Linked DNA regions of Homo sapiens. The protein of the gene in region 2 purifies or fractionates together with the protein of the main gene of each other region. This does not show direct contact. Each region holds a gene or a part of one and is shown on either strand. Other genes may lie near its edges.

Evidence for each region.
Region 1: the proteins of MMP3 (region 2) and NUCB1 purify together in Homo sapiens (affinity purification with mass spectrometry; 3 studies listed by BioGRID and IntAct, with this or other methods). This does not show direct contact.
Region 3: the proteins of MMP3 (region 2) and PTPRS purify together in Homo sapiens (affinity purification with mass spectrometry; 4 studies listed by BioGRID and IntAct, with this or other methods). This does not show direct contact.

The regions. Positions count from the first base shown.
Region 1 is NC_000019.10:48,910,245-48,913,994, reverse strand, and holds part of NUCB1 (nucleobindin-1 precursor), read right to left. Parts: intron 3,066-3,750; exon of another isoform or gene 2,847-3,065; coding exon 2,743-2,846; intron 985-2,742; coding exon 799-984; intron 522-798; coding exon 431-521; intron 1-430. UniProt on the Homo sapiens protein: Major calcium-binding protein of the Golgi which may have a role in calcium homeostasis. Acts as a non-receptor guanine nucleotide exchange factor which binds to and activates alpha subunits of guanine nucleotide-binding proteins (G proteins).
Region 2 is NC_000011.10:102,836,893-102,840,642, forward strand, and holds part of MMP3 (stromelysin-1 preproprotein), read right to left. Parts: intron 3,702-3,750; coding exon 3,537-3,701; intron 3,361-3,536; coding exon 3,216-3,360; intron 2,352-3,215; coding exon 2,218-2,351; intron 1,819-2,217; coding exon 1,659-1,818; intron 510-1,658; coding exon 406-509; intron 1-405. UniProt on the Homo sapiens protein: Metalloproteinase with a rather broad substrate specificity that can degrade fibronectin, laminin, gelatins of type I, III, IV, and V; collagens III, IV, X, and IX, and cartilage proteoglycans.
Region 3 is NC_000019.10:5,215,170-5,218,919, forward strand, and holds part of PTPRS (receptor-type tyrosine-protein phosphatase S isoform 1 precursor), read right to left. Parts: intron 3,630-3,750; coding exon 3,618-3,629; intron 3,364-3,617; coding exon 3,251-3,363; intron 1,599-3,250; coding exon 1,551-1,598; intron 427-1,550; coding exon 329-426; intron 244-328; coding exon 120-243; intron 1-119. UniProt on the Homo sapiens protein: Cell surface receptor that binds to glycosaminoglycans, including chondroitin sulfate proteoglycans and heparan sulfate proteoglycan.

The DNA.
Region 1 (3,750 bases), on a different chromosome or scaffold from region 2:
CTCCATCTCAAAAAAAAAAAAAAAAAGGAAAAAGAAAAAGAGAAAGGGTTTTCCAGGCTTCTGGAGGCCTGGTTCTTAGGGAACAACCCACTCCTAGCGACAGGGTTCCCAGAGTGGACCAGGGCTTCTCCTGGGCTGCTGTGGGCAGAGGGCCCAGGCCTAGCCAAGCCTGGTTTGCTTACAGAGGACACCAGCTGTCCTTAGAACCCCGAGGTCTGGTGTTTGCTAGAAAAGAGGCCCAACCCTTCCATGCAGATCCTAGCCTTGTAGTCGGGAGAGGCAGGGCTGTCTGGTCAACCAGGGGACATAGGCTTGGCTCTTGGGCCTGACTAAGCCCTCCTGGGACAGACACACCCCTCTTAGCATTCAGGTCCTAGAAGGGTCAGAATCTAGGGTTCATCCTGGCTCTGGAACTCCCTCCCCACCTTACCATGCAGTATGAAGAAGGTCTTGGGGTTAAACCTGTTGGGGTCCAGTCCATCCAGCTCCTCCCACACCTCCTTCAACTGGGCTTGGCTGCCCTGTGGAGGGGAGAGCCAGGAGCTCATGAGCAAGAAGTCTGGATGCCATGGGATAAAACCAAATATCCCTTTACCCTCATCCAACAAACATCATCTCCCTCAAGCAAGAAAACTAAGAAAACTACAACTCCCAGCAGACCCTGGGGCAGCCAGGTACAGTAACAGGGAGTTTTTTTGCCTCAAGGGCCCCTGGGAATTGTAGTTCTTTAACTGCTTTCTTGTCTTGCGTTTGAACTGGATGTGGTAGGGAGTGGATGGGCACAAATGGGGTCCTCACAGGCACGTTGACTTTAGGGTGCTCGCGGTGCCGGCGCTGTTGCTCTTCCAGCTTCCTCTCCGCCTCCTTTCTCTGCTCCTCTCCCAGTGACTCCAGATAACGCCGTCTCTCGTGTTCCTTAAGCATCTCGTAGCGCTTGAACTCTTCATGATGGGCTGCGTCGTACTGGGCAAGGTCCCGGGTGGCCTGGGGAAAGGCACAGGGTCATTCCCCTCTGCCCCCTCTGCCCAGCCCCCAATTCCAGCCTGTAAATGGCAGGCCCTTGGCCCTGAACCTGGCTGAGGGCAGCCCCAGCCTCTACCTGTCTTTCTTACGTCTCGTGTCCTAATGTCCCTTTTTTTTTTTTTTTTTTTGAGAGGGAGTCTTGCTCTGTTGCCCAGGCTGGAGTGCGGTGGCACAATCTCTGCTCACTGCCTCACTTCAACCTCTGTCTTCCGGGTTCAAGTGATTCTCCTGCCTCGGCCTTTCGAGTAGCTGGGATTATAGGCATGTGTCACCAGGCCCAGCTGATTTTTGTATTTTTAGTAGAAACGAGGTTTCACCATGTTGGCCAGGCTGGTCTCAAACTCCTGACCTCAGGTGATCCGCCCACGTCAGCCTCCCAAAGTGCTGGGATTATAGGCGTGAGCCATCGCGCACAGCCTGATGTCGCCCTTTTTGGTTTCCATGACTGCTCCTGCCCCATAACACACTTTCTTCTCTTTATTCAAAACAGATTGGGACGGTTATACAATAGCAACTTCAACCCACCTCTTTCAAGTCCTCCACAATCTCCAGATCTTGGAGGAATAAGTAAATAGGAACAACATATGTGGTGAACTTAGTATTTATGTATTTCAGGTACAGCTAGGTGGCCAAGAACATAAGGTCAGACTAGGAGAGGTGGGTCACGCCTGGAATCCTAGCACTTTGGGAGGCTAGGGTGGGAGGATCACTCGAGCCCGGGAGTTCAAGACTAACTCACATAACACAGCGAGACCTTGTGTCTACTAAAAATTTTTAAAATTAGCCTGGTGCGGTGGCTTGCACCTCTGGTCCCAGCTACTCAGGAGGGTCAGGTGGGAGGATTGCTTGAGCCCAGGAGGTTGAGGCTGCAGTGAGCTGTGATCATGCCACTGCACTCCAGCCTGGGCATCAGAGCAAGACGCTGTCTCAGGTAAAAAAAAAAAAAAAAAAAGTAAAAATAAACCAAAAAAAGAACAAGAGGTTTCTAACTATTTTGCCCAGCGTTCAAATCTAGGCTTTGCTTTGTGACCAAATCTCATAAGCTCTGTGACACTGGGCAAGTTACTCAGCCTCTTTGTGCCTCAGTTTCCACCTCTGTAAAATGGAGTTAACAATACCAGGTTGAACAGTATACTCCCCCCACACTCCCAAATTCATGTCCACCTGGAATCTCAGAATGTGATCTTATTTGGAAATAGAGTGTTTGCAGATGTAATTAGTTAAGATGATGGCCTGCTAGATTACGGTGGGTATCACTATAAGAAGAGCTGGGTGCGGTGGCTGACACTTGTAATCCCAGCACTTTGGGAGGCTGAGGCGGGTGGATCACCTGAGGTCAGGAGTTCGAGACCAGCCTGGCCAACATGGTGAAACCCTGTCTCTACTAAAAATACAAAAATTTTCTGGGCGTGACGGCAGGCACCTGTAATCCTAGCTACTCGGGAGGCTGAGGCAGGAGAATCGCTTGAACCCGGGAGGCGGAGGTTGCAGTGAGCCGAGATTGTGCCATTGCACTCCAGCCTGGGGGAAAACAGCGAGATTTCGTCTCAAAAAAAAAAAAAAAAAGAAAAGAAAAGAAACGACTCAGCCCTCTACCAGCCTCCAACCTCAGAGAACACCAGCAGGAATGGTGAGCTGGCTCACGTCTGGGACTCTGTCCCCTTCTCCCCTTCCGCAAAGCTACCCTCAATCCTCTGCCTCCGGACCCACTCCCATTACCGTCTGGATCAGCAGCTCCAGGTCGCGGGCCTCGAATGTATGCTGGTTCTGAGGGTCCAGGTGTTCAAACTGTTTCAGGAGATTCAGATGATCCACCTGTACATCTGGAAGAGAGGGAAGAGTCCAACACCTGAGGGCATGTTCTTTCAGAACCCCCATCTTGGGCCAGACATGATCCAAAGAAGTCACGGACAGCACTAGGGAAGCCCAGAAGACAGCTTGAACCTGGGGCAATCAGGGAAGGCTTCCTGGAGGAGGTGATCCCACGACTGAGTCTGATGCTTACAATAATAACCATAATAAAAACTAACATGTAGTGCCTACTTACTAGATGCCAGGCCATGCCCTAAGCACTTTAACTGTATTAATTCATTCACTTTCCACAAAATCCTGACAACAAGGGTTTTATGATTATCCCCATTTTATGAATGTGAAAACTGAGACCCCTTGAGGGGTTGTGACTGGTCTAGGGTACCAGCTAGCAAGTGGCAGAGCAAGGATGGGAACCAGCCATTGGACATCCAAAAACCATGACACTCAACCATTTCTTTTTTTCTTTTCCTTCTTTTTTTTTTTTTTTGAGACAGGGTTTCACTCTGCAGTGGCAGGATCTCGGCTCGCTGCAACCTCCGCCTCCCAGGCTCAAGCAATCCTCCTGCCTCAGCCCCGAGTAACTGGGACTACAGGTGCATGCCACCACACTCGGCTAATTTTTGTATTTTTAGTAGAAACAGAAACAGGGTTTCACCATGTTGGCCAGGCTGGTCTTGAACTCCTGACCTCAGGTGATCCACCCACCTCGGCCTCCCAAAGTGTTGTGATTACAGGTGTGAGCCACCACGCCCAGCCTCAACCACTCTTTAAAAAAAACAAACAAGGCTGGGTGCGGTGGCTCACGCCTGTAATCCCAGCACTTTGGGAGGCCAAGGGGGGCGGATCACAAGATCAAGAGATTGAGACCATCCTGGCCAACATGGTGAAACCCCATCTCTAATAAAAACATAAAAA
Region 2 (3,750 bases):
CCTGGGAATTAGTAGCAGCAATAAGATAGGGTGGAGGAGAAGGCCAGCTAACCAACATTAAACCTGGCCACACCACTTGATGGGATTTTTATGCTAACATGGTAATCTGAAAGTCGAGCTTGACTCCACATGTTAGCTCGAGATGTAAGTGACACTGGAGCACTTTGATTTTATATGCATGTATAAGATAAAGTAGCGAGATTTGTGTAATTATCTTTATGGTTCCAAACAAGTTATTTTGTGAAGTAGTTCTATAATGAGTACAAATGTAGGCGAATCAAAATTTTGAGAAGGGAACTGGCCCTAAGAAACACTTGTTATTAAAAAGTTTCAATGCTCCTCTTCCCTCTGATATCATAAAATGTTTCAAGTGCTCTATGGCCAACACAGTAAGTATCCTCTTACCAAATTCTTCAAAAACAGCATCAATCTTTGAGTCAATCCCTGGAAAGTCTTCAGCTATTTGCTTGGGAAAGCCTGGCTCCATGGAATTTCTCTTCTCATCAAATCTGTACCAAGTAAAAGAAACAGCTCAGCATTGCATAGAGGCCATGTTACCGAACATCTTAGATCATGTTAGGTTTAATGTGGAATTTTACTAAACTTTATAAATACTGCAAATAAATGCCAAGCATATTTGGGACTATAGAAATATGTGACTTTAATGGTACTGTAAAGAGTTCTGAAAGCCATATCTCCATCCGGAACAGGGGCCGCATCCTGCTGTATGTAGCACATGCTGTTTGTCATCATATTTCTTAAGCCTGGACAGAAAGAACCTTAATCATCTTTCTGTCACAAAGACATGAAAGTGTGAACATATATATAAAGTGAATTGAATCAACATCTAAAATGCAATTTTAATTCCCTACCACAATTGGCCCATATATGCCTGCTGTCCCCTCCCCTGCACATCTAAATCTTCTCTGGTGGCCTCCTGGGAAAAGGGATTAGGATAAGAAGCAAAGCACAGTAAGTGTGTTTTTAGCCCATTGGCTGGATATCAGATGGTCGGCCTCGATGTCTCAAAGTCTGGCCAAATGACCCAGGAATCAACCTGTCTGTGAGTGTTGGGTTGTATCCATAAACTGGACTGCTATTGATCATCATCTCTTAAATGAGCCATCATTATCAGGTAGAGGTGACAAGTGGGTGAGGTTAGAGGTAGCCCTTGAAAATCATATAGTAGTGTTAGGAAGACAAAACAAACACACAATGAGACAGTGACAAACACACAGTGAGACAGTGAGCCAAACTAAAAGACAATGGGAAGGGAACGCTAAATTGCGGTCTGGGTTCTCAGAACATTTTCCCAATGGGTCTAAAGTCCACGAGGGAAAGCTGCATGGAGGTGATGAGACTTGAGCCAGGACTTGAAGGATGGGCAAGATTTGAATAGGTTGAGGAGAGAAGAGGGGGCTCCAGGCAGGTGGGGTGACAGCACCAAGGGAAGCACCAGCCAACTGCACTTGGGACTGAAAGCAGGAGAGCCTAAGGTGCTGCTGTTTTAAAGTAAGAACTTTCCCACAGTTGTCTGAAGTCCCATCCTTCCTACTAAGAGAGAAGCAGGCCTAAGGTTGGGGTGGGGGATTTCCTTAGTAAAAGAAACTAATTTCCCTAATTAGGCTCCATACAAAGTCATTTCTCTTGCATCTCACCTCCAGTATTTGTCCTCTACAAAGAAATATGTTTTGTTCTTTTCCTTATCAGAAATGGCTGCATCGATTTTCCTCACGGTTGGAGGGAAACCTAGGGTGTGGATGCCTCTTGGGTATCCAGCTCGTACCTCATTTCCTCTGATAGCCCAGAATTGATTTCCTGTTAAATATAAATAATTCAGAGTCATATTGAATTATAACAGTTAAGCCCTTTCGCTTTAGAAATACACTTTAGCATCTTTGATTTTCATGGTAAAGTAGTAGCCCAAATTTTAGATTTAGTCACCAGCTTACAGTGGGCTTTTCACAAAAATTTGCAGACTGAATGAATGAACTAAGGTCAAATGAGAGAATTTACAACTCTGGGTAATTTATCTTCTTGTCTTTATTTTTATCATCTATGAAATATAAATACAATGATATCAGCCCTGGTTATTTCTTCATTACCGTTGACTACTGTATTAGCCAGAACTTGTAGTAGGGAAAATTAAAGTGTTGTTCAATTTCTTATGAGAGGGTTTACTTTGGCAAGTTAAACAAATGATGATATAGTAATTACCTTTAAAAATGAAAACGAGGTCCTTGCTAGTAACTTCATATGCGGCATCCACGCCTGAAGGAAGAGATGGCCAAAATGAAGAGATCAAATGCAATTCAGGTTCAAGCTTCCTGAGGGATTTGCGCCAAAAGTGCCTAAAATATATGTAAAAAGAAATGTAAATTGAAAAACAATCTTTCACCTTTAGAATATTTTCCTCACCGTCTTGCCTCACCCAGCTTCCCCCATTCTCTCATCTTCTAGGCTGGATGACAGATAGAAATCAGGTATATTGCCATTAGAAAATTTCTTTCCTTTTTCTTCAGAAGACTGTAGTGAGTCTCCCGTCATAGGTTTCCAGAGTAATGTCTTCTATGAAAGAAAAATTATTCTATCGTGCAAATGAATTAGCCCAGCATAAGCTTTAATTACCTGCAATGTATGCAAAACAGTGCGTGTGCTATACCCTCTTCCAAAAGCTAGGCCGTGTTTGTATACGTGTATGTGCTGTGTAAATATATTCTTGTATGTGTGTAGAAAGATTCTGGAAGGATGCACAAAAAGTCTTGACTCTGGATGAGTACAGGGAGAACTGGGAACTAAAATTTTTAATTTGCTTCTCATTTGTGCTCTTTGAATGTTTGTCATGTGCATATTGATCCATCAGTAAGTAAATTACTTGATTAAATGTAATGTTGATCCTGATGTCATTTTTAAAGGAAGTAAAAATAAAATTATTATTCGAAAGATCTACTCATGCCTTTTGAAAAGTAACTGTGACTTAAGACATTTGGAAACAGCAATTAGAAGCTAAGAACCAGATCAGCCTGTGCCTTCAAAAATGAACCTGACAATTTTAGGAAAATGTGGGAAAAGGCAGCACCAGATCTAAATGATTCCAAGCTCAGAAGAAACGTTTTTGTTTTAAATGTCTAAGAATCTCTATCAAGTTTCTGCGTGTTTTCCTTTCTAAACATTGTAGATTAAAATGGTAGGAAAATATAATTTTTCAGCCTGACCTGTCTTTAAAGATCAGGATTTCTCCCCTCAGAGTGCTGACAGCATCAAAGGACAAAGCAGGATCACAGTTGGCTGGCGTCCCAGGTTCTGGAGGGACAGGTTCCGTGGGTACCAGGGGGGTCTCAGGGGAGTCAGGGGGAGGTCCTAAAGGGAACATTAGGGGAAATGTGATACGTTTCAATATATGCCCATTTGTATGCTTTCCAAACATTCTCACGGTGCTTTGAACTAAATCATAAATACTTTATGTAGCATTTGAAAGCTCTTCTGAAGACCATCATTGCAAAACTACAATGGCTGATTTTCCCAGTGTCACTCACCATAGAGGGACTGAATGCCATTTATATCATCTTGAGACAGGCGGAACCGAGTCAGGTCTGTGAGTGAGTGATAGAGTGGGTACATCAAAGCTTCAGTGTTGGCTGAGTGAAAGAGACCCAGGGAGTGGCCAATTTCATGAGCAGCAACGAGAAATAAATTGGTCCCTATTTAAGAAATTGAGAACAATAGTTACTTATTTTTTAAATACATGTG
Region 3 (3,750 bases), on a different chromosome or scaffold from region 2:
TGGAGCTGGACCAGGTCTATGACCAGAATCAGGCCTCAGTGGCCCAAGGGGAGACATGGGATCTAGCACTTTCCATGCAGTGGGGAAGGGCAGGTTAAGACCCGGGATCTCCGAACTACCTTCAATGGGCTGGAGGATGACACGGGAGTGGTCATAGGCGATGACGTTGGCATAGCGGTTCTTCGGCTTGTTCACTTCCAGGTTGGAATGTTCCCATGTGAACTGCTGTCCAGGGTCGATGGACTACAGAGGAAGGGGAGAGCGCGGGTGTCAGGGTAGGTGCCTGTGAGGCCGAGGTGATGAGGGTGGGAGGCGGGGGTGGGCTCACCTCATACTCCTGGGAGAGCTTGAGGCTGTCGTTGGCCTTGAGCCGCTCCGTGTGCTCCGCCATGTCTGCGATGGGAATTGGCGGGTGGCTAAGCATGCCTACAGGGTGGAGCAGACCCCGCCGGGGTTGGTCACTTGGGGGGCCAGCCGGGGACTCGGGGGAGGGGGGTGATCTACGTGTGAGTCTGCGATGGGTGAGCTGTGGTTAGAAGGGCATGGCCGGGGTGGGGCTTGGCAGGAGGGGAAGACTCAGGGTGGCTCATGAAGGGGCTGGGACCCCAGGCCTAGGGGACTCTAAAGGCAGCAGGTTTGAGGCCCTCTGCTCCGTGCAGAGGCTGACACCCCTGGAGGGGCCTGGATCACAGCATTGGCCCATCCTGTTTCCTTCCAACCAAGCTGGGGGTGCAGGGGCTGGCAGAAGGGTCACCCCAGAGGATGTCAAGCTCCCAGTGCCTCGAGCCAAGAAGCAAGTGTGTGGCACAGAAATTAAATTGCAGACGCAGCCGGCTGTGCTTTGGAAATACTGTCCTTGGGTGGGCGACTGACACCCCTTTCTGTCCCTCTGGGATCAGAGGCACGAAATCCGCTTCCAGGTAGAGGCGACAGACTAGGGAGGGGAAACAGTATGTGTGTGTGTACGTGAGAGGAGTGAGGGGTCCCCATCTGTCCCTGCGCTTGCTTGGGGCAGGAGCAGGTGCAAGAAGGCCCTGGCCTGAGAGCTCTTATCCTTTCAAGCCCCCTAGGATGGCTGCCGAAGGTGCTGGGTGTGGGCTCGGTTCTCCCTTCCCGATATCTGGGTCTGCAGAACCCTGACCTCTCCTGGGACCTGTGTACCGGATGTTCAGCTCTCAGGTGGTTTCCAGACCAGCTGGTAACATTTAATGTTCTGAGACTTCCATGTGTCCCTAGCTGTCCTGGGTGCCCCCCAAGAGCTCACATCTAAGGGGCCTGCCTGTCCTGTGGGCACGTCCTGGGTACATACGTGCCTCACCCACATCCCTGACACACACATACACACCACACACACAGCAGTCACACACAGCCACCTGAGGGCCCAATGGACCAACCCCCTGCCCTCTTCCAGGAGCCAGCACAAGACAGGTGGGCAAAGGCCGGTGATGGGTGGGCGTGTGGACAGAGACAGGAGACACGATGGAGAAACCAAAGAGGAAATGAACGGGGGCGGGGGCGAAAGGAAGCCAAAAACAGACACAAGAACTAACTTTCAAAGTGAAACCCCGGCTCCCTGAGGGGGCTCCTGAGGCCTGAATCTGCAAACAGCAAACAATAAATAAATGAAAACATGCAGGGGGTAGGGGGGGGTCCCACCTCTGCCTCCCCCACCCCTCACTGGCTGGCGGATGCAAAGGGCAGAGCAACGCGGACAACGGGGGGTATGTACAGCCACCTGGGCCCCCACCTGAGGACTCACGATAGCTGCTAACTGTGTACCCCTCTGGCTGGACACCAGTCAATCCTGGTCTTGACCCGTCACTCTGGAAGGACTCCAAAGTGCTAGGTTCTTCTGTCTACAGATCCCCTCCCCCAGACCAGCCTGGCCTTGGGTCCCCTCTGTTGAGGTCAGCAGAGGGCATTCTGAGGAAGGAGGATGCAGGATGGTGAAGGAGAAGCTGGGGGAGCAGGGAAAGGACATATGGGCCCATGCCATGAGCTTCAAGGAGGACAGCAACCATCAGTTAAATGCACATGTTGAAAATCCTTATTTGGATGGAAACACAACAGACATCAGCTAGTCCAGAGACAGAAATGAGATGGGAGCACATTAGCGGTGAATTGTGAGACTCTGCATGATCCCTTCAGGAGACTGCAGCCGTCAGTTACATGCACATTTAAAATTCTCATTTGGCTGAAAAACCAAAGCAACACGAATCAGTACAGAGGAAAGAAAGGGAAGAGAATACACGAGGGGTGATACATGAGGCCCTGCATGATCCCTTTATGAGGACAGCAGCCATCAGTTAAATACTAATGGTCAAACTCCTCATTTGGATGAAAACAGAAGTGACACAAGCCAGTCCAGAGACAAAAAAAAAGAAAGTACATCAGGAATGGCATGTGAGGCTATGCATGAGGCTTTAAGGAGGACTAAAGACATCAGTGAAATACAAATGTTTAAAATCTTCATTTGGTTGGAAAATAGAGTTGATATGAACCAGTTCAGAGATACGAAGTGGAGACCGGGTACAGTTGGAAGGACAGATGTAACTTGGCTGTGAACCCATAAGGAGAATAGCAGCCATCAGTAAAATGAAAAATTCCTTATTTGGTTAGAAGCAGCTGGCATGAGCCCATGAAGAGGGAGGAGATGGTAGAGTTTGTGAATCATACATGAAAATGATCAAGGATAAGGCCTTGATTCAGTTCTCCTGGACTGTCAGGTGACTTTAATCTACAGGGAACTATAAAGAGGCATGAACCCTGGCAGCCATGGTGGGAAGAGGTACAGGGCATTGGGCAGGTATAATTTCTGTACCTTGCTAGGGATATATCCCAAGGGAGTGTGGAAAATGGCTGAGGGCAAACCTCAACTCCCACCACCGAGGAACATTAAAACCAGAGACATAAACAGAAGAATAGCTCTTTCTGCCCAAAGAAATGAGGGGTTTATTTGTGTTTTCTCCATTTTTTAAACATCGTCTTTAGGCTCCTGAAGAGGACAGCAGCCATTGGTTAAATGTTAACTTTAAAAAAAAAAAAGCCTCACTTGGTTGTAAGCAGAACCAACCTATGAGTTCCAAGCCCAGATCCATGTAGGGTTGGAGGTATTTGGGAATCCAGAATGTGGCTGCACCAAGCATAGTTCAGAGGGGGCCAATGAGGGGCCCCCAGGGTGGCAGCTACTGCTTCTCCCCAGCTATCTCCCCTGTTGGTGGCATCCCTGGTACCAGGGATAAGTACATACCTGGAGTCTGGAAGTTAATGCGTCTCATTTCCACAGGGTCCTTGGGGTGGTGAGGGGCGAGGTCGGCATTGTTCAGGAGGCATTTGGTGCGGGGTTCTGAGTCCTTGCGTTTACTTTAGGAGAAGCAAGCGGAACAGTCCAGTTAGTAGTGGCACATGTTCATGTGTGAACACAATTCAGGCCCCAGGAATGCATGGTAAGAAAAGGACCATGGACCCGTATGACTAGGGTTTCCAGGACCAAGTACAGCTACGTGTACAAGCTGTGGGGGCAGCCGGGCATCCCCTCTCCTGTGGGCACACTATCAGCCCATTCCCTGTCCTCTTCCTCTTGCCTGAAGCCTCCACGGGGGAGGGCTGGTTCTTACCTGTCGGGTTTGCTGTTCCCGAAAGCAGACACAGGTGAGAAGGGGGAAAAAAAGAAGAAAGGTGAGGGTGTGCCGGCCATCAAGGGCTTGTTCTGTGACTCTCAGTGCCTTCCTTAACCTCTGTGAGCTTTGG